Linked DNA regions of Homo sapiens: regions 1, 2, 3 and 5 are each reported to be linked to region 4. Evidence: microRNA targets listed by miRTarBase, many of them from high-throughput screens and not tested one by one. Region 4 holds a microRNA gene; each other region holds the end of a gene's coding sequence.

Region 1 (5,105 bases), not on the chromosome of region 4:
GTCCAGGCTGCTGAGTGCAAGGGTAGACAGTGACACCATGGGAGACCCCACAGGTAGGTGGAAGATAGCAGAGAGCACTCCACGGCTTTTTCTTTTTGAGGTAGGGTCTCGTCCTGTCGCCCAGGCTGCAGTGCAGTGGCATGACCATGACTCACTACAAGCCTTGACCTCCCAGGCTCAAGCGATCCTCCCACCTCAGCCTCGTGAGTAGCTGGGACTACAGGCGTGCACCACCATGCCTGGCTAATTTTACAGTTTTTGTAGAGACATGGTCTTGCTATGTTGCACAGGCTAGTCTTGAACTCTTGGGCTCAAGCGATCCTCCCTCCGTGGCCTCCCAAAGGGCTGGGATTACAAGCGTGAGCTACTGTGCCCGGCCTCAGTCTGTGACTTTAAGCGAGGTCATTCCCTTGCAACCTGAGTTTTCTGATTTGTAAATCTTCTACCATGAAAGGTGGTTGTTACAATTAACTTGACAATATGTACCCAGTACATGGCAGATTCTCAGTAAATGGTTCTTTATTATTACTCTAGAGGCAGGGACTAGCCTTGTGGGGCTTGAGACAAATTGTCCACTCCCCAGAGCCGGAGACCCTGCCTGACCCCAGCCATGACTTACTTTTCAAAGCAGTGGGCAGCAGTGAGGACCCAGGTGTCTGCCACCAGGGAGCCGCTGCAGATGTGGGCTCCTTGCCTCCTCACACTGGCCTGCCAGGGCCACTCGCCAGGGACTGTGTTGCCCTCCTGAGGCTTGGGGGGGCCGGGGCCACGCTGTCCACAGGCTGTGGAAAGGAGTTAGTCACACTGACAGCAGATACCTGTCCTGACCTCACCCCAGTCCCAACCCAGACCCAAGTAAGACCTAGGCCCCGTGTCCCCAGACCTTACCACGCTGAGCGGCTTGAAGACCTGGGAAGAGAGAGACACAGGTAAGATGCAGGGACTCCAGGCCTGCCTAGCTTTGGGGAGGAGAGGGGATGGGCTGGGGGGCGGGCCCAGGGTCCTTGCCTGTGACTCTGATTACCTTACCAGCCCCTCCCAGAATGAAAATATTTATATGAGGCCGAGACAGCTTTTATTGGAACCTATTCAGTGTGCACACTCAGTAATTAATTCTCCTTCAGCTGTGCTCAGCACTCTGGGGCTTGGGGTTCAGCTTGGGAGTAGGCCAGCCCTCCTCCAGGCTTCAGAACCCCCAACTCCTGCCCCCGCCACTGAGTCAGCCAGGCGGCCTGTGTGTGTAGAGAGCATTAGCTTAATTGTCCTCTTAGCAGCAGAGGCCTAAGAGGAAGGATTAGAGGCCTGCATCATTTCCAAGTGGGGAGGGCCCCAAGAAATGGAGACTTACCTCACCCTGGTCTAGAGACTCAGTCTTCCCCACCTTCCCAGAAACTGTCTGAGAGCCCGCCAGAGAGAGGGCCCCTGCCCACCGCCCCTCACAGGCACACAGGCACCCCATGAGACAGCTGAGCCAGGCTGCCCAGAGGATGGATGAAAAGAAAGGGAAACTGAGGCCAGAGGAGCCCAGAGTTTGCCTGACGTCATTGTGGAAGTCGAGGGGGAGGCAGGCACAGGACACACGCAGGCAGCACCTCACACACACACAAGACCACAGGCCCCGCCAACGCAAACTGCAGCTGGCCCGAGAAAATCTCATCCATGTTGACACAGGTGGCCACATATACCACCCCACAGAGTCCTACGGAGTTACATCCCCACTGGTGGACTGTCGCCCACAGGCGGTCCCCCCACCAAGAAGCAGGGACTGCTGGGGCAGAGATGGCCCCTGAGCCCCCACCAGGCCACACCCATACCCCAGCACATGGCGGCTTACCCTCCATGAGGACTGTGGCACCCGCGATGAGCAGCACTGGGCCCCAGCACCACTTCATGCTGCCCCGGGCCACTCTGCCACCTGTGCTCCACTCTGAGAGAGGCCACCTGGGTCTCCCTGGCTCCACCTCTGCTCCACCTCCAGTTGGCTAGGATTCAGCTGTCTGCTTGCCCTAGCCAGCAGTTCCTAGCTCTGGGGCTGTGGCTGTGTGACCCTAGGCTTGTCACCACCCCTCTCTGGGCCTTAGCCGTGGAGCCAAATTGTCTGGGTTTAAATCTGTTTCCTTACTACTTGAGTGGCCTGGGAGAGCTAACCTGCCTGTGCCTTGTCTGAGAAACAGTTGTTGAATGGAAAACGTCTCAATGACAGCCTGGCACAGGGCAAGCTCACTCCCAGCATGAAAGTGCCATCCTGGAACCATGGAGGGCACGTGGGCAGCTCCTCCCAGTCCCCACTTTTCATTTCCACTCCCCCACTTCTCTTCCAGCCAGGGCTAGGTGGGTTTCACATGCCTTCTCCCAGGTCTGCTCAGAGACAGTGTGTGCCAGGCTGAGTGGTGAGGAGCCAGCACCCACTGCTGCTTGCTCGCTGTGAGCCTTTGGCAAATCCCAGTATCTCCCTGGGCCTGCTGGCTTCCTGGGAAACAGGGTGACAGCGGTGCCCACCTTCCTCATAGGCGCAGAGGACTCGGTCAGGCGGGAAGAACACTTTGGCGCGTGCCTCCTCTTCCTCTTCCCACTCCTAACTCAGGCTGGCCCAGACCATTCAAGAACCCTGACCCCAAGACAGAGGCAGCTGTGGGTAAGGTTTAGCATATATTATAGATGCTGGCCGGGCATGGTGGCTCACGCCTGTAATCCCAGCACTTTGGGAGGCCAAAGCAGGCAGATCACCTGAGGTCGGGAGTGCGAGACCAGCCTGACCAACATAGAGAAACACTGTCTCTACTAAAAATACAAAATTAGCCAGGCCTGGTGGCGCATGCCTGTAATCCCAGCTACTCGGGAGGCTGAGGCAGGAGAATCACTTGAACCTGGGAGGTGGAGGTTGTGGTGAGCCGAAATTGTGCCATTGCACTCCAGCCTGGACAACAAGAGCGAAAGTCCGTCTCAAAAACAAACCAACAAAAAAAAAAGCATATAGATGCTGGAGCCAGATGGACCAGGTGGATTCAAATCCTGAGAGCCTCCTGCAGTAGCTGTGTGATCTCAGGCATACTAATTAGCCACTCTGTCCCTATCATCAAGATAGGGATAATAATAGTACCCACCTCATAAATCACTGTAAAGATTAAACGAGTTTAACACGTTAACACAAGTTTTTTTTTGTTTTTTGTTTTTTTTTGGAGACGGTCTTGCTCTGTTGCTCAGGCTGGAGTGCAGTGATCATGGCTCACTGCAGCCTCAACCTTCTGGGCTCAAGCAGTCTTCCCGCCAGCTTCCCGATTAGTTGGGACTATAGGTACATACACCACCATGCCTGGCTAATTTTTTTTTTTTTTTTTTTTTGTAGAGACAGGGGTCTCACTATTTTGCCCAGGCTGGTCTGGAACTCCTGGCCTCAAGTGATCCTCCTGCCTTGGCCTCCCAAAGTACAGGGATTACAGGTGTGAGCCACTGCACCCTGCCAACACAAGTTCTTAAACAGTGCTTGGCATGTAGGTAAGTGGTCAGGGCATAATAGGCAAAACAAAAACCTTCACAACCTGGCCCTGACCCTCCAAGGCTACCAATACTGGCTTGGAATGGTCGATAAGGCAACTGGAGGGGTTAAAGTTAAACTCAAGGAAGAACTTCCCAGCAAGCATTTACAGAACCAGAAGGGCAGCCTGCCCTTCCAGGTGTGTGCTCAGCCTTCCCAGGAGAGGAGGCCTGGCTCCTGTGGGCAGCAGGAGCGAGCTGCCAGCCTGTTTCCTGGGGGTGGGGGCCAATGGTGCCCCAGGCCTTGCTGACTCCACACACTGGAGATGAGACTACCCATAACCACCCTTCCCAGCAGGCCCTCCACTCTCCCTCTGACTCACCCTTCCCAGCTCCAGAGAAGGCAACACCGAGGGAGGCCCAGCACCACAGTCCATGGCAGACACATGGTTCAGACTTGGCTGATTGATCTAAGAAACTTTATTGCTCAGAACCTTCCCTCCCTGGGCAATGGAAAGAGCTTTGGAGACCAGCCCATGGGGACAGAGTCAGAGGCACTGGGTGTAAAAAAGAGCGAGCGTGTGGCACATTTGGTCCATTGTCATGTGCGGGTATGGCAGGAGGAGGGGGTAATCTAGAAGCCCCACATCTAGGGCCTTCTAGGGACCCAGATATGCCCCCTTAGGCAAGGCTCACATGCCAAAGCAAAGCAGATGAGGTCAGCCTGGCTTGGGTTGAGGGCTCAGTGCCTCTTAGCCTTGCCCTGGGGTTCTTGGACCTTCCGGAAACTGAGCCACATCAGGCTCACGTTGATAGCATAGGTGGTGATACAAACAATGCAGAAATCATAGAGCACGAAGAACAGGATCCAGGCCAGGTAGACAGAACCAGCGAGAGACACCAGGGAGCTCAGCAGCATCAGGACAGAGGCCCAGCGTGTCCGCAGGCAACCTGCAAGGCAGAAGAGGGTCCGGTGTGGGCTTCAGGCACTGGCCACCTCCCGAACACTCCATGATGTCACTGCACTACCTAGATGCCAGGAGCTGCTGGGAAGGGTCTCTAAAACAAGAGGCTCCAGGGCAGATGTGGTGGCTTACGCACGTATTCCAAACACTCTGGGAGGCCGAGGTGGGAAGACTGCTTTAGGCTAGGAGTTCAAGACCAGCTTGGGCAACATAGAAAGACCCGATCTCTATCAAAAATTTAGAAATTCAGCTGGGCACGGTGGCTCATGCCTGTAATCCCAGTATTTTGGGAGGCCAATGGGGGTGGATCACCTGAGGTTAGGAGTTCGAGAGCAGCCTGGCCAACATGGCAAAACCCCATCTCTAATAAAAATACAAAAATTAGCCGGGTGTGTTGATGGGCACCTGTAATCCCAGCTGCTGGGGAGGCTAAGGTGGAGAATCGCTTGAACCTAGGAGGTGGAGGTTGCAGTGAGCCGAGATCATGCCACCACATTCCAGCTTGGGCAGCAAGAGCAAGACTTCGTCTCAAAAAAAAAATGCCCGGTGAGGTTGACTCACGCCTGTAATCCTAGCACTTTGGGAGGCCAAGGCGGATGGATCACCAGGTCAAGAGATTGAGACCATCCTAGCCAACATGGTGAAACCCTGTCTCCACTAAAAATA
Region 2 (5,105 bases), not on the chromosome of region 4:
ATTCCCTATTTAATAAATGGTGCTGGGAAAACTGGCTAGCCATATGTAGAATGCTGAAACTGGATCCCTTCCTTACACCTTATACAAAAATCAATTCAAGATGGCTTAAAGACTTAAATGTTAGACCTAAAACCATAAAAACCCTAGAAGAAAACCTAGGCAATACCATTCAGGACATAGGCATGGGCAAGGACTTCATGTCTAAAACACCAAAAGCAATGGCAACAAAAGACAAAATTGACAAATGGGATCTAATTAAAGAGCTTCTGTACAGCAAAAGAAACTACCATCAGAGTGAACAGGCAACCTACAAAATGGGAGAAAACTTTCGCAACCTACTCATCTGACAAAGGGCTAATATCCAGAATCTACAATAAACTCAAACAAATTTACAAGAAAAAAACAACCCCATCAAAAAGTGGGCAAAGGACATGAACAGACACTTCTCAAAAGAAGACATTTATGCAGCCACAAAACACATGAAAAAATGCGCACCATCACCGGCCATCAGAGAAATGCAAATCAAAATCACAATGAGATACCATCTCACACCAGTTAGAATGGCAATCATTAAAAAGTCAGGAAACAACAGGTGCTGGAGAGGATGTGGAGAAATAGGAACACTTTTACACTATTGGTGGGACTGTAAACTAGTTCAACCATTGTGGAAGTCAGTGTGGCGATTCCTCAGGGATCTGGAACTAGAAATACCATTTGACCCAGCCATCCCATTACTGGGTATATACCCAGAGGATTATAAATCATGCTGCTATAAAGACACATGCACACGTATGTTTATTGTGGCACTATTCACAATAGCAAAGACTTGGAACCAACCCAAATGTCCAACAATGATAGACTGGATTAAGAAAATGTGGCACATATACACCATGGAATACTATGCAGCCATAAAAAATGATGAGTTCATGTCCTTTGTAGGGACATGGATGAAATTGGAAATCATCATTCTCAGTAAACTGTTGCAAGAACAAAAAACCAAACACTGCATATTCTCACTCATAGGTGGGAACTGAACAATGAGAACACATGGACACAGGAAGGGGAACATCACACTCTGGGGACTGTTGTGGGGTGGGGGGAGGGGGGAGGGATAGCACTGGGAGATATACCGAATGCTAGATGACGAGTTAGTGGGTGCAGCGCACCAGCATGGCACATGTATACATATGTAACTAACCTGCACAATGTGCACATGTACCCTAAAACTTAAAGTATAATAATAAAAGAAAAATAAATAAAATAAAAGAAAAAAGAAGAAAACCCCCCAAAAAAATTTTTTTTCTGAGTTCCATGTCTTCTAAAGAGTCATTGAACCTGAGGATGGCCTTGGGGTCTCTTGATCCCACTTTGTTGTCAAAATGGGATTCACTAGAATGTCTCTGAATCATTGAAACATGGCAAAAGCATGCTCAGAAAAGGAAGGATGAGTGGTGCTTATAAGGTGGTCTTATTGTGCCCCGACTGAATAGTGTCTTAGTCTTCTTGAACTATAGTCCTTAGATAACATTGAATGGGATTCTTGTTAAAAGCATCAAAGATATCTGAAATAGATCTATCCAGTTTTGAAAGTATCAGATTTGACCTGATATGCAATACAGGATATTGAAAGCTCTAAAATTGTCTTCATTTCTTTACAGATCTGGGTGAACCACTCTATAAAGCACAGAGAAAAATTCTTTCTTTGATATAGTTTTATAGAGACTGTGATACATGAAGTTACAGATTTGTGTGAGGTCATAGGTTTGTCTGAGTCACTGTATAAAGCACAGAAAAAAAAATTCTATCTTTGGCCCAGTTTCACAGAGACTGTAGGACATGAGGTCTAGAGAAGGACACTATACCAGGAAAATTTATTTTCTTCTCATAGCTTTAATTTAGTTTAATTTTTTGAGACAGAGCCTCACTCTGTCGCCCAGGCTCTGTTGCCCGGGCTGGAGTGCAATGGCACAATCTCGGCTCACTGCAACCTCCACCTCCCAGGTTCAAGTGATTTTCCTGCCTCATCCTCCTGTGTAGCTGGCATGACAGGCGTGTGCCACCACACTTGGTTAATTTTTGTATTTTTAGTAAAGGCAGGGTTTCGCCATGTTGGCCAGGCTGGTCTCAAACTTCTGACCTCAAGTGATCTGCCTGCTTCGGCCTCCCAAGTTGCTGAGATTATAGGCGTGAGCCACTGCACCTGGCCTCATAGCCTTTAAACCACCTCAGAGACCTTAATCTGGTGTCGAAAATTCAAACAACTTATTACCACTGATCTCTGGAAAGTTCATGATATTTTATCAATTGAAAATAATCACCCATGCATCAGCCTATTGTTTTTATAAAAGAAGCTTATTTAGCACAACCTATGCCTGAACATACTCCCAAGGAGATGTACAGAAAAATAAGGTATCTGTCTTCAAACAAACTTTACCTTTACATTTCAAACAAATACTATATTGCAATAAGTTCATGTGTGCCAAGACTATAATTACAACCTGGAGGCCCTAATTCCCTATTTTAACAGGCATTTTACGATGACTCTCCATGATCTAGGTACCATGGGCAACTTGGATCCTGATTCCAAGGGTCCTTGAAATATTTGGGTGTTTGTATTTCCCTAGTATATGGATATCTAGTAAATGGCTCCAGACGTTTCCTAGGAGGAGAACTTGGGAAATCATTATCATTTATTTGGGTCCTGGAGTTGCAGTGTCCTTTCCTGGGGTACTGCCCTCCACTCCAACTGAGTTCAGGGTCTGAAATTAGCTCAGATCAAGGCTATGGATGTGACACTTTATCAGGGCTACCTCTCAACATCCTGATAGACAGCATTTACTTCACTTGATTGTTTTCTCCCCATCCCATTTAACCCTATGGCTGGTCCATTGTATTGACCATCTTCAGAATTATCTCCATCAGGCCTTGCAGTCTGCCACTCATTACTATAACTGAATCTTCTTAGATTCTAACAATTAAGGGTCAACACCAGGCCTCTATGTGTCTGGGTCTATCATCCCCCATCAGGGGGTTCAGTTCTGGAAAGGCACATTGTCCTTTCTATCTGAGGCTACCGCAAAAAGACCACTACTGACAAGGTTGGCAGGATCCTTCCTATCAGTGCTTAATCTTAATGTTTGGTAATTTATGCTTCTAACACCTTAAAACTTGAATTCAGAGAAAGGAAGTAGAGGCTACTGTAGCTGAGATTTCAAAGGCCACAGAAAAGTGTATGCCTTAGTCTCGAAACAAATAGAAGGGATCGAAAAACCAGGCCAAAATGAAAACAAGAATATGATGCAAATTTTTTGCATTCTAGTACTCAGATCTTAGTCTTAGACCCCTCATTGGGCTGGCTGATGTAATTCCTAGAAGCAACAAGGAATTTCATCATCTGATAGCCAATTTCACTATTTTTTTATTGTTATCATTATTAGCATTGTCTCTTACATTTTCTTATTTATTTCTGAATCGGTAAAATAAGATTTCTTTACAAAATTCAAGAGTATAAAGTGAAGAGTATGTGTTCCTTCAACCCCTACATTCACTTGGTTCTTCCCAGAAGGAGCCAATAATAATAGATTTTGATTAATCTTTCCAGAGATATATTTGCATGCTTCCATATAATAATTGCATTTTTTCCATGCTGATAAGATAATCTACATTGCTTTACAACTTGGTTTTTTTTTTTTTCATTTTACAATGTCTCTTCAAGACCATTCTTTACTGGTACAAATAGAGCTTCATTGTCAATTTGTTTACTGGCTATATAATATTCCAGTACATGCACATACTAAAATTTATCTTACCAATCTAATGTGAAGGACATTCAAGTACATTGCAATATTTTGCCATTAAAAGCAATGCCTCAGTGGACCTCTTGTATGTAAATGATTTTTCAAAATTATATTTCCTAAAAGTGAACAAAGTTTTTCAAAGTGTGTATGGATCTGTTCTCTCATGTGGGCCAGGCACTGATATCCTCTAATAAGCACTTTTTATGTTTAAAACTTTGCTAAATGAGGGCTGGGCATGGTGGCTCATGCCTGTAAACCCAGCACTTTGGGAGGCCGAGGCGGGTGGATCATTTGAGGTCAAGAGTTCGAGACCAGCCTGGCCAACATAGTGAAACCCCATCTCTACTAAAAATACAAAAATTAGCTGGGTGTGGTGGTGTACACCTATAATCCCAGCTACTAGGGGGCTGAGGCAGGTGAATCTCTTGAACCCAGGAGGCAGAGGTTGCAGTGAGCTGAGATTGCACCACTGTACTCCAGCCTGGGCAACAGAGTAAGACTCTGAAAAAAAAAAAAAACTTGCTGAATGAAAATGAAAAACATACAGATCAAAAATAGTCCAAAGCATATATGTACAATCTATAATATCCTTAAAAGGGGAGCTTATGCTTTTTAAAGAGTGAGCTCACACCTTTGACACCATGACCAATTAATTTAGCAGGAGCAGACAATATTGCAGTTAGCTCATCGGCAAGGTTGTCCAAGGTTCGTGCAATCCAGGGAGTATCATCATTTTTTGTAGTATCAATCATACGTTTAAATTGACTTATCTCTGCATTCATCTCCTCATACTTCTTCTTAAATCCTTCATGAAGCCAATCATTTTGGACCTAAAGACAATGTAGGAAGGAAAGTAAATTTTTAAAAATCCCTATTCTTTTAAGACTTACATTTTGTATTTAAAACCTGTGTGAAACTTTATTTTACTCCTAAAAACATTTTCTCAGTTATTAGAGGAGAATTTGGACCTAGACATTGTGAGGAAGCATAGTTTATAACTTTACTAATATCCACCCACCATTATGGTTTTGCTATGGTGCTAACCTAGGTATGAGGACAAATTCTACATGTTCCTGCCCAAAAGATGCCAGTTAGGAGGTAGCCATTGGTCTGATTGCATAAATTCTCAGTCCCAGTTGGGCAGCATGGTCACCCATATTGTAGGAATACCAAAAACTTATAAGCTGATGTAGAAATCCCTTATGAGAGAACTTTCAGATGGACAATGCAAGAATTCTCCCTACACTGTGTGCTAATTTGGGCAGGCTACCTATACAGGGTGACAACTGCAGCAAGTTTAGAAACTGT
Region 3 (5,105 bases), not on the chromosome of region 4:
CATACATTAACACCTTCACTTAACGCCTCCCAGAAAGCTCCCGGCCAAATTGGACTTCTCTCATTTTTCTATATAGATTTCTCCCTTTCCTGCCTCTCTGTCATTGCTCATGCTATTTTCTTTACATAGGCCAGTTTTTCCCTTTTTCTTCCTTTCAACCAATCCTACCTGTGGAAATCTTGTGTAGTCTTCAAGATGAAGCTCAACATCACTTCCTCTAAGAAGACATCCATGGGCCAGTGCAGTGGCTCACGCCTGTAATTTCTGCACTTTGGGAGGCCAAGGCAGGCAGATCACTTGAGGCCAAGAGTTCGAGATCAGCCTGGCCAACACAGTGAAACCCCGTCTCTACCAAAAAATACAAAAATTAGCCGGGCGTGTTGGCACCTACCTGTAATCCCAACCACTCAGAGGCTGAGGCAGGAGAATTGCTTGAACCCAGGAGGTGGAGGTTGCAGTGAGCTGAGATCATGCCACTGCACTCCAGCCTGGGCAACAGAGCATGATTCTGTCTCAAAAAAAAAAAAAAAGAAAAAGAAAAAGAAAAAAAAAGACATTCATTACTGCAACGCCAAGCAAAGGATTTTTCTTCCACCAAAGCTAAACTGCCTTACAGCACATGTCTCCGATGGCCCATATTATCTTCAACCTCACGTTCTAGGTTTCTGTGCAGTTGTCTCCATTCCCTACTACATCTGCTTCCTGCCACTGTTAACTATATTACAAGCACCTTAAAGGCAAAACTGCCTCCTCCCACCATGTGTTCTCCACAGTACTTTTCTTAAGCCGGAGCTCCACAAATTTGCCCAAGTGAATTTAGAATCATCTGCATCTTTCTCTGCATTGAATAGTTCATGTATTTGTAAGCAAAAATGTAGGATGCTTAAAAACTCACCTTTCCCCAATGCTCCCACTTTTCCCAACTGGAATTTTTTAAATGGCCCAATTTTCTTTTCCACATCTAACTCAATCATCTTAACAAACGTTTTCATCATTTGAATTTTATCTAATGAATAAAAATTGAGTCCCTTCCTGGTATAATCCTCTCACAATTTCTTTATTTTCTTCCTATCACCAGTGCTACCTCCTTTGGCTTTTCAGGACAAATTTATTACTCTTGAGATCTCTGAGGATGAGGATAATATCTTAGCCATCATTATATTCCCAGCAGCTGTTAGCACCTGGGTGTCCAATAATATTTGAAGAATGCATGAATGTGTGAAGGTGTGGATGCTGCACTAGAGCAGGCAGAGTCAGTGCTGTCCCTGAGATGATGACATAACTTTTGCAGGTCTCACATAATCCTTACCACAACCCTATGAGGTGGGCATTCTTCCCATGTTACAGATGGGAAAACTGAGGCTATGAGATAGTAAAGAACTTGACTCTTGGCCACACATCCAGTAAGTGATGAAACCAGATTGAAACCCAGGTTTGTCTAACCCTGGAGCTAAAGCTCTTAACCAAAAATCCTCTTGGATTGGATTGCAGCCGGCATTATCCTGCCCTGCTTCAAGCCAAGGGAATGTGATCATGACAACCTTGAACATACCCTTAAACCTGGAGCCTTGGCATCTGTTGGCCATTTGGTTGGGAAGGTCTAAAAGAAGTGATGAGGAAGCTTGAGATTGTGAGAAAAATAGTGTAAAGAATATATATGCATTTTGTGTGTGTGTGTGTGTGTCTGTGTATTCTGTGTATAGGATGATACCTGGGGATGAAACAGGCTGTGTTTATAGGAAAGTTTTGGAGATAAGAATATACAAGTGACCAGGAGTCACAGGTGGACCTCAGTCCTAGCTCAGACACTTAGCATCTGAACAAACTTGGACAAGTCATTTATCCACCTGAACTGGTTTGCTGTGAGATGGCCTATTGACCTCACATAGGTGTTGGGAGGATCTATGAAGCTCAAGAAGAAAGTTCGTAAAATCCCAGTATATGCAGTGCGCTGCACTGATGAGTAGAAGGGTAAGGAGGAACAGAGTGGTGGTCCCTGATTCAAAGGAGTTTCCATTCAAATTAGGGGAAACAGACATGTAAAACTAACTCTAAATGATACGGAATGGAAAATGTGCAACCATGAAAAGGAAGATCTCTTGAGCTCTTTACTGTATGGCAGGTTAAAAGATGTTAATCTCACAAAGATGTTAACCTTACCAAGTGGGTATTATTAGCAATCCCATTTGGTAGATGAGAAAACTGATAGCTAGAAACCTTTAACCTTTACTCCAAAGCCATGTTGCTAAATTCCACAGCCAAAATTCACCCCAGATCTATGTAACCTGAATCTTTACTTGTATCATCTCCCCATGCTATTGCCTTGAGCAATTCTAAGATGCAAAGTGCAGAGAGATGGGAACCTTTGTGCTCAACTTGGAAAAAGGGGAGAAAGGGCAATGAAAACAGAGCAGACACCCTTTAAAACTGCGTGGCTTTAAGGCCAGGCGTGATAGCTTGTGGCTGTAATCCCAGCACTTTGGGAGGCCGAGGCAGGCGGATCACCTGAGGTCAAGAGTTTAAGACCAGTCTGGCCAATATGGTAAAACCCTGTCTCTACTAAAAATACAAAAATTAGCCTGACGTGGTGGTGCATGCTGTAGTCCCAGCTACTTGGGAGGCTGTGGCAGGAGAATCGCTTGAACCCAGAAGGCGGAGGTTGCAGTGAGCCGAGATCACGCCACTGCACTCCAGCCTGGGTGACACAGTGACTCCGTCTCAAGAAAACAACAACTGTGTAGCTTTAGGGAATGTCTGAAGTCCCATGATTGTCACCATCAGTGTGTGTCTCACTACAAACTCAAAAAGCTAGGGAGAAGAGAATGAAATAGGGTGCATATAGGGCCAGAGAAGATGTGAAGGGAGAACACCAGAAGTTCCATTCCAGCAAAAGGGCTGCATACGGCCGCTGGATAGATGCCAAGTGATTAATGTCAAGCCATATTAATGTCAGAGAGGAGAATTTGGTGAAAGCTTTGCCTGGCTAGATCTCAGGCTGGAAATCACTAGATTCCTTTATTTTATTTCCCCCTAATCCTTTATAACTTCCTCTAATGCCTTAGTCAAGCTTAAGACCATCAGCCTCCAGGGAGCAAAGTGAAGCCCATCTGTTCAGTCAGGCATTTGCCAGACCAAAGTAAAAGGTCAATCTGGCTTTTCCTATAACAGCATTGAGATGACCCCAAATACTTCCCAACGGTATCAGCCAAAAACAACTTTGCATTACCGTGAATCGTGATTTCAAAGCAGAGATGTCAGGGATATCCTTTAAAACGGATAATGACTGGGCTATTGCTAGTGAGAAAAAGAAAGAAAACAATAGGCATATGTCTCTTTGGAATGTGCTTGCTCTAAAGGCTGTATAAAAATAATCCTAATCATCTTGTTTGGGGAGGAAAATCAATCAAGAATGCCTTTTTTCAAATATTTTATTTCTTTTATTATAAGACATATAGGTAAAAACTTGCATATTTTGAAAAAGATAGAAAATGGTAATAAAATGGATATTTTTCTTATTAAGAAATATGTTCATAAATATGCTTTATCAAATGTTAAAATGGTTATTTTGCAAAATAATAATAAATAGAGCAGAGCTGTGACATACAAGGGTCAACCAAAGTACTGGAAGTTTTTATGCTATATGTTTTATAAAAATTCAGACTTCTGATTATACATTAAAAATTGACATTTTGCACTACAGGGTATCAATAATTCTGATTTTAAAAATATTTTTATGATGGCTCCATGAATTCAAAAATAATAAAACATAAAAGGTGGTTTGACTAAATAGAATCTGATTCAAATAATTTCCCCCTAAATAAGAAATTGTAAGATATAATTTTTGAGCCTATAAGGGACACATGTATCAGTTCCCAATTCTATATGTCTTGGTGGGCATTGAACAAAAATTGTTTGCTAAGCCTTTGTTTCCAGCAAGGTCCACATCATTTCTTTTCACAGTTTGATGGAGCAATAATAGTCACGATTCTGATGAGCCTAGTTCTACAATTCTAGCTCCATGGATCTTAGATTCGTAGAAAGTTTTCCCTCCTTTGAAGAAACTCATTGACAGCTTTCTTATATTTGTTTATGACTCATTGGCCTCAAAGTCACATATCAGAACACTGGGAAAAATTTTTAATGATGAAAAGTTCTTGTTCTAGGCATTCTTTGTAAGCTTTACTTCTCTACTATCCAAAATAGAAGAAACACATGTGAACACCAAACACATCCTCTAAAGAGTCTTGGGTGTTCAAATAGCAAGGTCAGGCTTTTCCTGGAAATAAATACTGACTTTTTACAAAAATCTTTCATTTCCCATGCATCATGTTGCCCACAAGGCTAATACGCTAGCTCCCTGCTACAATGGGGGAAACCACATCTAACTTAAGTATTCAATCTAATATAGATTATTGGTCCCAATGGCCTTCAACAACGGCCATCAAAGGGACATCTGGGTGACCCTGGGTTCCTAGAGTACAGAGAGGTCATGGCAGGATTTGGACTTGAGCTTGAAGGCCATATTCTTGTTGTTTTTGGCCACGATCTTGCCCCAGAAGCGCCTGGCTTTCCTGGGCATGCTCTCCTTCCTTTTCTGGTAGGCCAGCCGCCGTTCATTCTTCTCCTTGCTGTCCCGCCGAAGGCGCACCTGTCGCACAATGCCCTCAAACAGCTCCTTCACGTTGTGCTGGACAGCTGCAGAGGTCTCGATGAACTTGCAGTCAAACACCACTGCACAGGCTCTCCCTTCTGGGAAGGAAAGAAAGAGGTCAGAGGGACTGCAGAGCACAGTCCCACATAGCACACAGTCAAGCTGGATGGTTCTTCGAGGTAACACTAAGTCAGCTGTATATGCAGTGGATAGAGGATGCTGCTGCGGCATGGGCCCTCCCAGGGCATGAATAGAAAATGTCTCACTGGAGGGTCCCTGGAAGTAAGGGAGATGGGCTTTAGATCTGATCCCCCATAAATTCACTGTCTGAAGGTCCCATTTCATCAAATATAGTGATATTAGTTATAACAGTAAAAGCCATACCCTTAATTTACTGCTGACTTACAATGTGCCAAGAACAAGGCTAAGTTCTTTATAAACACTGTTTTCAATG
Region 4 (5,105 bases):
TTGGGAGGCCAAGGCGGGTGGATCACCTGAGGTCAGGAGTTCGAGACCAGGCTGGCCAACATGGTGAAACCCTGTCTCTACTAAAAATCCAAAAATTAGCCAGGGGTGGGGGTGGGCGCCTGTAATTCCAGCTACCTGGGGAGCTGAGGCAGGAGAATCACTTGAACCCAGGAGGCAGAGGTTGCAGTGAGCCGAGATCGTGCCACTGCACTCCAGCCTGGGCGACAGAGTGAGACTCCCTCTCAAAAAAAAAAAAAAAAGATACAAAATGCACTGTGTGGGATGTGAGGGCAATCTGGCTGTGACATCTGTCACCCCAGTAATCGTCAGGGTTGATTTGGCTGATCTGGCTGGCTAGGTGGGTGTCCCCTTCCTCCCTCACCACTCCATGTGCGTCCCTCCCAAAGCTGTGTGCTCGGTCCAAGAGGATGACCATCCCCAATAGAGGAGGACTCATCTTCAGTCAAGGGTACACGAGTAGCTGCACTCCCCTGCTAGAACCTCCAAACAAGCTCTCAAAATGCACTGTGTGACCTTACTATAATATCCTCCAGTTCCATCCCAAGGATTTCACTCTTTTTTATGGCTGAGTAGTATTCCATGTTGTATATGTACATTTTCTGTATCCATTCATCTGTTGTTGGACACCTAGGTTGATTCCATGTCTTGGCCGTTGTGAATAGCGCTGCAATAAACTTGGGGTTTGGATGTCTCTTCACGCCTTTTAAGTTCATGCCTTTTCTGTCACCTTTTCCATTGATTCTATGCACATAGCACCTCTTGCAGGCATATCTTGTCCCATAACCAGACCGGAACACTCATTTGTTCTCAGAATGCTTTCTGCATGGTAACTTGGAGAGCTATTTGAGTTACGGTCTATACCTCATGCTTATATTGGACCTGGTGGTAGCAAGTGTTTCATAAATTCTTCTACTTGGTTAATCTGTCATTTTCTTTTGGAATGAGTAGTTGCAGAGCCACATTAAGATCCTTATAGGCCAGGCACGGTGGCTCATGCCTGTAACCCAGCACGTTGGACGGCTGAGTAAGGTCAGAGGATTACTTCAGACCAGGCGTTCGAGACCAGCCTGACCAACATGGTGAAACCCTGTCTCTACTAAAAATACAAAAATTAACTGGGCGTGGTGGTGGGCGCCTGTAATCCCAGCTACTCAGGAGACTGAGGCACGAGAATCACTTGAACCTAGGAGGCGGAGGTTGTGGTGAGCTGAAATCGTGGCCACTGCACTCCAGCCGGGGCGACAGAGCGAGACTGTCTCAAAAATAACAATAATAATAAATCCTTATAAACCCTAAATGCTGAAAGATGATGGCATTTCCCCATGCGTAATTTAAAATAAAGACAATACCCAGGCTGTGCGTGGTGGCTCACGCCTGTAATCCCAGCTCTTCGGGAGGCCGAGGCGAGTGGATCACTTGACGTCAGGAGTTTGAGACCAGCCTGACCAACATGGTGAAACCCCGTCTCTACTAAAAGTATGAACAATTAGCCAGGTATGGTGGCGGGCACCTGTAATTTCAGCTATTCCGGAGGCTGAGGCAGGAGAACCGCTTGAACCTGGGGGGGCGGAGATTGCAGTGAGCCAAGATCCTGCCACTGCACCCTGGCCTGGGCGACAGAGCCAAACTCAGTCTCAGAACAACAACAACAAAAAGCAAAAATTGCCTATCATTCATGACGGCAGGGGAAGAGTTCCAAGATTTCCAGCTGGGCGGTTGAGACGGTGGACCAGGACAGCAGGGAGACGGACACAGGGAGGGAGCCCCAGTCTGTGGAACACCATCCCACTTACCGTAGCTCCCCACTGGCAGTGTGTATGAGTCTTGGTGGTATCTTGTGTGCGGGTCTGAGCTAGGGGGCGTGGCCCCAGGAGCATCCAAGGTTCTGGTTGGGGCAGCCACAAGGTGTCTGAAGAGCAGCGGGGTTTGGTCGTCCTGGCACTTCCGCAAGCAGCCTTTCCAGCTGTAGCTCCGGAAGGTGCTCTGACATGACAGTTCAAAAACACACTTCCCCCTGGCCTGGGCTTCAACACTCACTTGTCAGAAAGTGAGGTCCTGTATGCCCCAGTCCTCGGCCAGAGAAGCAAGAAGCAGATTTCCCAGAGGCTGTGGCCCCTTGCATTGGTGAGGACACTGGGGTGCTACCTCTGTTTGAGGGGTGACTGACAACTGTGCTTTCTTAGGGTGGAGTTGGTCTGCTGTCGTGACTGTCTGCTTGAGATACTGACCCCTGGCGATCAGATTCTGGAAGTCCTCTCCTGAGGCTGCTGAAGTCGTCCCAGAGGCTTGTCCAGCCACAGCAGTGGAGAAAGATCCAATCAGGCAGGCAGGGGCAAACGGGAAGTCGGGAGGGTACCCTCCCCGCTCCCTGAGAAGTGTGGACTTTCAAAAGGAAGTGAGAAAGAGGAAGGTCTTGCCTAGGCATGGGGTAGACCTGTTTGATGCAGGCGGACTTCAGGGAAAGCTGGTCCTCAGTGCCACAGTGCTGTGGCTGTCGGGCGGCAGGCACTGGCTCACAGCCGTGGTGGGGACGCCTTGTTTCTCGGAAGGACAGAACCGCCCTCCTGCAGCTCCTGTTCCTGGCTTCACATTAGAATTAACTGGGGAGCTAAAAAAAAAAAAAACCTGATGCCCCAGAAATTCTGATTTGATAGTTTCTGCCTTGATGCCTAGACAAAAAATGTCCTGAAACAATACTTCACCTCAGACAATACTGTACATGCTGATGTTTTCTAGTCTGTTCCATTTCATTAAGAAAGATTCTGGTCTTATTCCAGTAAATTGATTTCAAGGCCACTAATGGGTGGTGACCCACACTTTTGAGATGCCTGTTCCGGGCATCACCTCCCACTGCAGAGCCTGGGGAGCCGGACAGCTCCCTTCCCAGGCTCTGCAGTGGGAACTGATGCCTGGAACAGTTCCTGCAGCCGGTCTCCAGTGTGATTCAGGTCCTGCGGCAAGTTCTAGGTGGTCCAAGTGAGGCAGAAGCCTTGCTGGAGGCTTTACCCGTCCACACTGCTGTGGAGCCTCTGAGCCTCCATGGAGGCTCCCCAAGCCAGGCAGCAGGGGAGGAAGCGTCTGGTAGGAGGGTGGAAGGCATCACGATAACTAGCCACCTGCAAGGGCTAAATCTCTCTGGGACGTTTGCACGAGGAACATTCCGAACCCATGAATAGAGGAGGGCTGCGGATCTGGTAGCTGAGGAAATTCAGTAGAAAAGCGAGAAATGTATGCCAGGTGCAGTGGCACACACCTGCAGCCCCAGCTACTTGGGAGGCTGAGGTGGGAGGATTGCTTGAGCCCAGGAGAGTGAGACCAGCCTGGGCAACATAGTGAGATCCTGTCCCTACAAATAAAAAATTAAAAAATTAGCTAGGTGTGGAGGCATGTGCCTGTAGTGCCAGCTACTTGGGAGGCTGAGGTGGGAGGATTGCCTGAGCCTGGGAAGTTGAGGCTGCAGTGAGCCTTGATCGTACCGCTGCACTCCAGCCCGGGCAACAGAAAGAGACCTTGTCTTTAAAAAAAGGAAGAAGAGGCTGGGCACGGTGGCTCACGCCTGTAATCCCAGCACTTTGGGAGGCTGAGGTGGGCAGATCACCTGAGCTCAGAAGTTCGAGACCAGCTTGATCAACATGGTGAAACCCCATCTCTACTAAAAATACAAAAAAATTAGCTGTGCATGGTGGTGGGTGTCTGTAATCCCAGCTACTCGGGAGGCTAAGGCAGGAGAATTGCTTGAACTGGAAGGCATTGAGCCAAGATCATGCCACTGCACTCCAGCCTGGGAGACACAGCGAGACTCTGTCTCAGAAAAAAGAAAGAAAGAAAGAAAGAAAGAAATAAGAACAGAGAAAAGCAAGAAATGTAATTGAAAGGCCGATGGGCTGCCCTGTCCTGCGGGTGCCTACCCTCATTTATGATGCAACTGAAGTCACTTCCATAAGCTCTTCGGTCCTTTCAGCAGTGCCCAGTAGGCCAGGGGCGGATGTAAGTGCAGAGGCTGCGGCAGTGAACAAAACAGACAAACCTCGGCCATGGAGCTTACATGTGAATGGGGTAAGCCTGTGTGGCTTGGTCCTTGGTAGATGCTTTGAGTGGCTGGTAGGAGGTCATGGTGACCTCCCTGGGTTGGTGAGCAGGTGAACGCTGCATGTGTCAATGGATGTGAATGCCAAGAAGAAAATAACTCAGGAAAGAGGAGGGGGAGGGGCTGGGCGAGGTGGCTCACACCTCTAATCCCAGCATTTTGGGAGGCCGAGGCAGGCGGATCAGTTGGGGTCAGGAGTTCGAGACCAGCCTGTACAACATGGTGAAACCCCTGTCTCTACTGAAAATACAAAAATTAGCTGGGTGTGGAGGCAGGTGCCTGTAATCCCAGCTACTCAGGAGGCTGAGGCAGGAGAATTGCTTGAACCTGGGAGGTGAGGTTGCAGTGAGCTGAGATCGCGCCACTGCACGCCAGCCTGGGAGACAGAGCGAGACTCCATCTAAAAAAAAAAAGAGAGGGGAGAGGGAGTCAGGGACCGGGAGGGAGGATTGTGGTTGCACACAGGATGGTCACTCCAGGGGACATTTGGACCAAGACTGAGGGGAGTGAGACAGCCTGAGGGGAGTGAGGCAGCAGACAGTACCATTAGCTCAGGAGCATGTCCAAATAGGGAAGTGCGAGGCAAAGGTCCTGTGGCCAGAGCGGCTGAGTGCAGGAGGAACCTGCGGGCCAGCACCGCTTCTGCAGGGTGAGAGGGTGGAAGCCAGGTGGACACAGGCTTAGGAAGGGAGTGGCGGCTCAGCACGTCCTCATCTCCCATGGTAGGGCCTTGTTTGGCCTCTCAGCTGGAGACAGGAAGGCCTGGGAGGGTTTTGGTGGAGGTGTGGGCTGAATTAATTTTTTTTTTTTTTTGAGGCAGGGTCCCACTCTGTTGGCCAGGCTGGAGTGCAGTGGCGCGTTCTCGGCTCACTGCAACCTCTGCCTCTCGAGTTCAAGCGATCCTCCTGCCTCAGCCTCCAGGGCAGCTGGGATTACAGGTGCATGCTACCGCGTCCAGCTAATTTTTTTGTATTTTTAGTAGAGACGGAATTTCACC
Region 5 (5,105 bases), not on the chromosome of region 4:
GATTCACCCGCCTCAGCCTTCCAAAGTGCTGGGATTACAGGTGTGAGCCACCGCACCCAGCGTGGCTTTTATTTAATAATCTGAAGAAAATATTTTTGTTTAGATATAACAACCAGCGTATTTAAAACGTGAGTTCTCAGACTGCTCCAGGGTTTGAGTGACTGTAATTAAATGCTTATATTGATAATTTATTTTGTTGTAGACCTTTCCAAAGTGAAACTGATGAGATTTGATGATCCACTGTTGGGGCCTCGACGAGTTCCTGTCCTGGGAAAGGAGTACACCGAGAAGACCCCCATTTCTGAGCATGCTGTTTTCAATGTGGACCTCATGAGCAAGAAAATTCATCTGACTGAGAATGGGATAAGGGTGGATATTGGCGATACAATAATCTATCTGGTTCATTAAACTCATGCACATTGGAGATTTATCCTGGTTTCTTAGGAATACTACTACTCTGATTGTGTCTACTGATTGGCTATCAGAACCTTAGGCTGGACCTAAATAGATTGATTTCATTTCTAACCATCCAATTCTGCATGTATTCATAATTCTATCAAGTCATCTTTGATTCCTGGACCTAATAAATTTTTTTTCCCTTTCTTTGGGTGTCCAAGAGAAATGGTTTTTGCCAAACTCTTTTTAAAAAACAAATTGTTGCTATTTCCTAGAAGTTTCTGGTTTTTAAGATGAACATAAAAGTGTCAGTATGCTTCTTTTATGAGGTGTACTTTATACTTTGATGAAGGCTAAGGTGTACCTAACAGCTTTTTATAGTATATTCATTTATGGAGTTAGCTGTATTTTTTTTTAAAAAAGAAAAGTAGTAAATTAGCAGCTTTTTTTTTTAAATGAAGAGAACTTCATGATGATTTAAAAGAACTAATGAGAATATTTTGACTTGACTTCAATTACTAAGTATTTTGTATAAAGAACAAATAGGTCCTGCATTTTATAAGACTTTTTAAAGCTTTAATTATTCAACTAAGAACCAATAATGGCTTCTTCAAGGCTAATATCAATAGTTTATAAGCAGTATATTTCACCTACACTAAATATGGGCATTTTAAAAGAAGATTCCCCCCTTCCCCCCCAGAAATCTGCATTTACTAAATTTGTCTTAAGTCCAATTGTGTTTAAAGGTCATGCTGGTCGGGTGTGGTGGCTCACACCTATAATCCCAGCACTTTGGGAGGCCAAGGTGGGCAGTCACCTGAGGTCAGGAGTTTGAGACCAGCCTGACCAACATGGTGAAACCCCGTCTCTACTAAAAATACAAAAATTAGCTTGGCATGGTGGCGGGTACCTGTAATCCCAGCTGCTTGGGAGTGTGAGGCAGGAGAATCGCTTGAACCTGGGAGACCGAGGTTGCAGTGAGCTGAAACCGTGCCATTGCACTCCAGCTTAGGCAACAAGAGTGAAACTCTGTCTCAATCAATCCATCAATCAATCAATAAAATAGAGGTCATGCTGACTATTACAGATTTATTCTTTTATTCTTGTTGGAGTGTCTTTTAATATCTGCGCCATCTGTCTTCATATGAGGAAAAAATGTAAGGCATTGACTAACAGGAGAAACATTTCTAATTTTGATGGGTTTAATATGGAGAAAGAACAATTTTGATAACCCAGAGGAACCTGAATTCTAACTGCGGTTATGTAAATAGAGTTTATTGAGCTTCCTTATTTTGCTCTCCGCAGTTAGGGACCACTAGGCCTAGTCATATGGTTTATCACAGATTTATTGAAGCCAATCATAGGATGTTAGAATTAGAAATCATCAAGTGCAAATAATCACTTATCTACTAGGGACAGGCACTATAGCATAGTGGGGTAAGAGCGCATGCTCTGAAATCAGACTAGCTAGGTTAGATTTCCAGTTCTTCTTTTTGCTACTAGGATGCTCTTGGCCAATTACTCGGAGCTGCAGTTCTTCATCTATAAAATGGAACTAATACTGGTACCTTGTAGGCTTATTGTGAGACGTTTAGGTGAACTGATCTAGGAAAATCATAACACAGTGCCTGGCAAGTAGTAAGTCTTTAGTGAATGTTACCATTGAAGAAGAAGAAGATGATGGATACCAAGGTATATTGGCTTCAGATTACTGTAGTCTGTAATCATGTCCTTTGTGTTGGTTCCTTTGGGGCAACTGATTCTTTCTTTGCACTCCTCTAGATTCTTTTGCTGTCCTCTCTGATCTGCAAAGCCTTAATTATTTCTGAAATTAAGTAATACTTTCTGTTGCCTAAACACAAACCTACTTGTGTTTAACTTAGGAAAATTAAACTATGTGTGCTTGGCCAGAAAAAAAAAAAGAGAGAGAAAGGAAAATAATATTGTGATTGTGTTCATCTTATGAACCTGTACTGTTTTGGATTAGGTGTGAGTTGAGATTCATGGATCCTTTGTTTTTTCAGTCTTGATTTCTGTGTGTCTCTCTTAGAATAAGCTTCTTGCTGTGCTGAATATGCTTCTTATGTGTAGAGATACAAATGTTTTGTATAAGGAGTCGTCTGAGCATAAGCCCATTACTTCATCTGGTACTCAACAGAAGAACCAGCAGTTAGTTGAAATGCTGAAGGAAAAACAGGCTACACTGGGCTTATTCTATTATTAACAATAATATAATTGGGTGCATAATAATAATGTTATATATAACTTATGTTAGTGCCTTCCTAGAGGATTTTAACTCTTTTTAAGTTTTGAAATACAATGCACATACACAAAAAGTGAGCAAAAAATATACACACACAAAAAATGAACTTCCTTTCTCTCCCCACCTCCAAAAAAAGAATTTATTAATAAAGCAAACACCTGCACAGTCACCAAACAGTTGAAGAATGGCACAGTGCCAGCACCACAGAGGTCTGCCTTTTGCCTTCTCTGGTCGCTAGAGATAAGCTTTCTGGCCCAGTATATGTCAGTTTTTATAAATGTTGCATTTGAGCTTGAAAAAAATATATATTCTGTAAATGCAAAAGTACTGTATGTGTCCATTAGGTCAGAGTTGTGGATTGAATTGTTCAAACCTATATCCTTACTGTTTTCTCTCTTTCTGTTTTTGAGAGGTATACCAAAATCTCTCATGACAATGAAATTTACCTGTATCTTGTTATAATTCTGACAGTTTTTGTTTTATATATTTTGAGGCTGTTTTGTTAGGTACATATAAATTCAGATTATATTCCTTCTGGTAAGTTGAACTTTTTCTAGTTAGAAAGTGTTTCTTTTTTGCCCAGGCTGGAGTGCAGTGGCACGATCTCGGCTCGTTGCAACCTCTGCCTCCCAGGTTCAAGCGATTCTCCTGCCTCAGCCTCCCGAGTAGCTGGGATTACAGGCACTTGCTACCACGCCCGGCTAATTTTTGTATTTTTTTTCTTTTTCTTTATTATTATTATTATTATTATTATACTTTAAGTTTTAGGGTACATGTGCACAATGTGCAGGTTAGTATACATGTGCCATGCTGGTGTGCTGCACCCACTAACTTGTCATTTAGCATTAGGTATATCTCCTAATGCTATCCCTCCCCCGTCCCCCCACAATTTTTGTATTTTTAGTAGAGACAGGGTTTCACCATTTTGGCCAGGCTGGTCTCGAACTCCTGACCTCGTGATCCACCTGCCTTGGCCTCCCAAGGTGCTGGGATTATAGGCGTGAGCCACTGCACCCGGCCATTTCTCTTTATTTTTAATTAATTTATTTTTTGCCTAGAGACCACTTTGCCTAACAATATAGTAACACCAGTTATCTTTTGGTTAACGTCCATGCAGACTATCTTTTCCATTCATTTACTTTTAACCTTCAGTAGTTTTATTTTCTTTTAACACTTCATTTCGAGAAATTTTAAGCCTACAGAAAAGTGGAAAGAATTGGCCAGTAAACATCCATGCGCTTGTCACCTAGATTTGCCAATTGTTAATATTGTGTCACGTTTACTTTATCTCTCTAAGTATCTATTTTTAAAATAAACTTTTAATTTTGGAATAGTTTTGGACTTACATAAAAGTTGCATCTTTAATATGGAGAGATCCTGTACATCTTTTACACAGTTTCTCCTGTTAACATCTTACTTAACCTTGGTTTAGTTGTTAAAACTAAGTAATTAACATGAGTACATTATGATTAACTAAATTGTATACTTTGTTTGGATTTCACCAATTTTTCTATTAATTTTTTTTACTATTATGGGATCCTATCCAGGATAACACATTGTATTTAGAAAATATTTTTTAAAAATTCAGAACCATTTGACAGTAAGTTACAGACACCATGACACTTCATCTTCCCATAGGTTATCACGCAACTCCTAAGAACTTGGACATTCTCCTATATAATCACAGTGTTGTTATTATGCCCAAGAAATTTAACATGATACAATAATATTAGGTAATAAGCTTTTCTAGTAAAACTTCCCCAATGTCTCATCAATAATGTGTTCTTTGAAAAACTCTCAGGATTCAAAGATCAAGTATTACATTTTGTGGTTAGGTCTGTTAATCTCCTTTAAACTAGGGTAGTTTCTCTGTTCTTTTTTTGATCTTTCATGACAGTAACATCTTTGAAGACATCAAGCTGGTCGTTAGCATGATGCTTACAATCTGGATTTCTGTATTTTCTCATGGTTGTAATCAGATTTAAAATTCTTGGCAAGATTACTACATAGGTGATGTTTCCCACTGGATCATGTCAGGATTAATGTATTGTGGATTTGATTAGCATCATATTTCTCGGTTGAAAAGCTACTCTTCCTTTTTGTAATTAAGTAGTCTGTGAGCTGATACTTTGAGGCTTATATGAATATCCTGCTGTTATGATCTGAGTGTTCATGTCCCCCCAGAATTTATATGTTGAAACTTAATCTTCACGGTGTTGGTATTAAGAGGTGGGGCCTGTAGGAGGTGATTAGGTCATGAGGGTGGCTTCCTCATGAATGGGATTAGTGCTCTTACAAAAGAGGCTTGAGGGAGTCCTGTTGCCTTTATGCCATGTGTGGACACACAAGGCACCAGCTATAAGGAATGGGCCCTCACCAGAAGTTGAATATGCTGGTGCCTTCCTCTTGGACTTCCTAGCCTCCAAAACTAGCAATACATTTCTGT

Evidence for each region. The annotated mature microRNA hsa-miR-3155b reads CCAGGCUCUGCAGUGGGA and lies in region 4 at 2,905-2,922, shown strand. An mRNA with a match to its seed (bases 2 to 7 or 8) in the 3' UTR can be bound and repressed. Matches are read on the target gene's strand: a 7mer-m8 pairs with bases 2 to 8, a 7mer-A1 pairs with bases 2 to 7 and ends in A, and an 8mer does both.
Region 1: the mRNA of VKORC1 is a reported target of hsa-miR-3155b. The part of its 3' UTR that is shown has no 7-base or 8-base seed match.
Region 2: miRTarBase lists GBP6 as a target of hsa-miR-3155b. Seed matches in the 3' UTR shown: 7mer-m8 at 1,935-1,941.
Region 3: the mRNA of GEM is a reported target of hsa-miR-3155b. Seed matches in the 3' UTR shown: 7mer-A1 at 4,266-4,272.
Region 5: miRTarBase lists LARS1 as a target of hsa-miR-3155b. Seed matches in the 3' UTR shown: 7mer-A1 at 1,236-1,242.

The regions. Positions count from the first base shown.
Region 1 is chr16:31,086,918-31,092,022 of GRCh38, forward strand. VKORC1 (vitamin K epoxide reductase complex subunit 1) reads right to left here. Exons shown (of 3, transcript NM_024006.6): 3 at 3,937-4,425. The coding sequence ends at 4,217. PRSS53 (serine protease 53) reads right to left here and starts at 2,026. Exons shown (of 11, transcript NM_001039503.3): 1 at 1,835-2,026; 2 at 889-909; 3 at 620-782. The coding sequence starts at 1,892. RefSeq lists an enhancer at 1,703-2,203.
Region 2 is chr1:89,384,752-89,389,856 of GRCh38, reverse strand. GBP6 (guanylate binding protein family member 6) reads right to left here. Exons shown (of 11, transcript NM_198460.3): 11 at 1,697-4,627. The coding sequence ends at 4,388. Among named protein-coding and RNA genes, the nearest start is that of GBP6, 23 kb to the right of the region's middle.
Region 3 is chr8:94,245,839-94,250,943 of GRCh38, forward strand. It overlaps GEM (GTP binding protein overexpressed in skeletal muscle), which reads right to left. Exons shown (of 5, transcript NM_005261.4): 5 at 3,415-4,749. The coding sequence ends at 4,472. Among named protein-coding and RNA genes, the nearest start is that of GEM, 14 kb to the right of the region's middle.
Region 4 is chr10:6,149,343-6,154,447 of GRCh38, forward strand. It overlaps MIR3155A (microRNA 3155a), which reads left to right and starts at 2,854; the gene lies at 2,854-2,935. It overlaps MIR3155B (microRNA 3155b), which reads right to left and starts at 2,920; the gene lies at 2,865-2,920. It also overlaps a transcript of PFKFB3 not described here and the pseudogene RN7SKP78. RefSeq lists an enhancer at 2,224-2,273.
Region 5 is chr5:146,109,409-146,114,513 of GRCh38, reverse strand. It overlaps LARS1 (leucyl-tRNA synthetase 1), which reads left to right. Exons shown (of 32, transcript NM_020117.11): 32 at 203-1,480. The coding sequence ends at 408. Among named protein-coding and RNA genes, the nearest start is that of PLAC8L1, 6.4 kb to the right of the region's middle.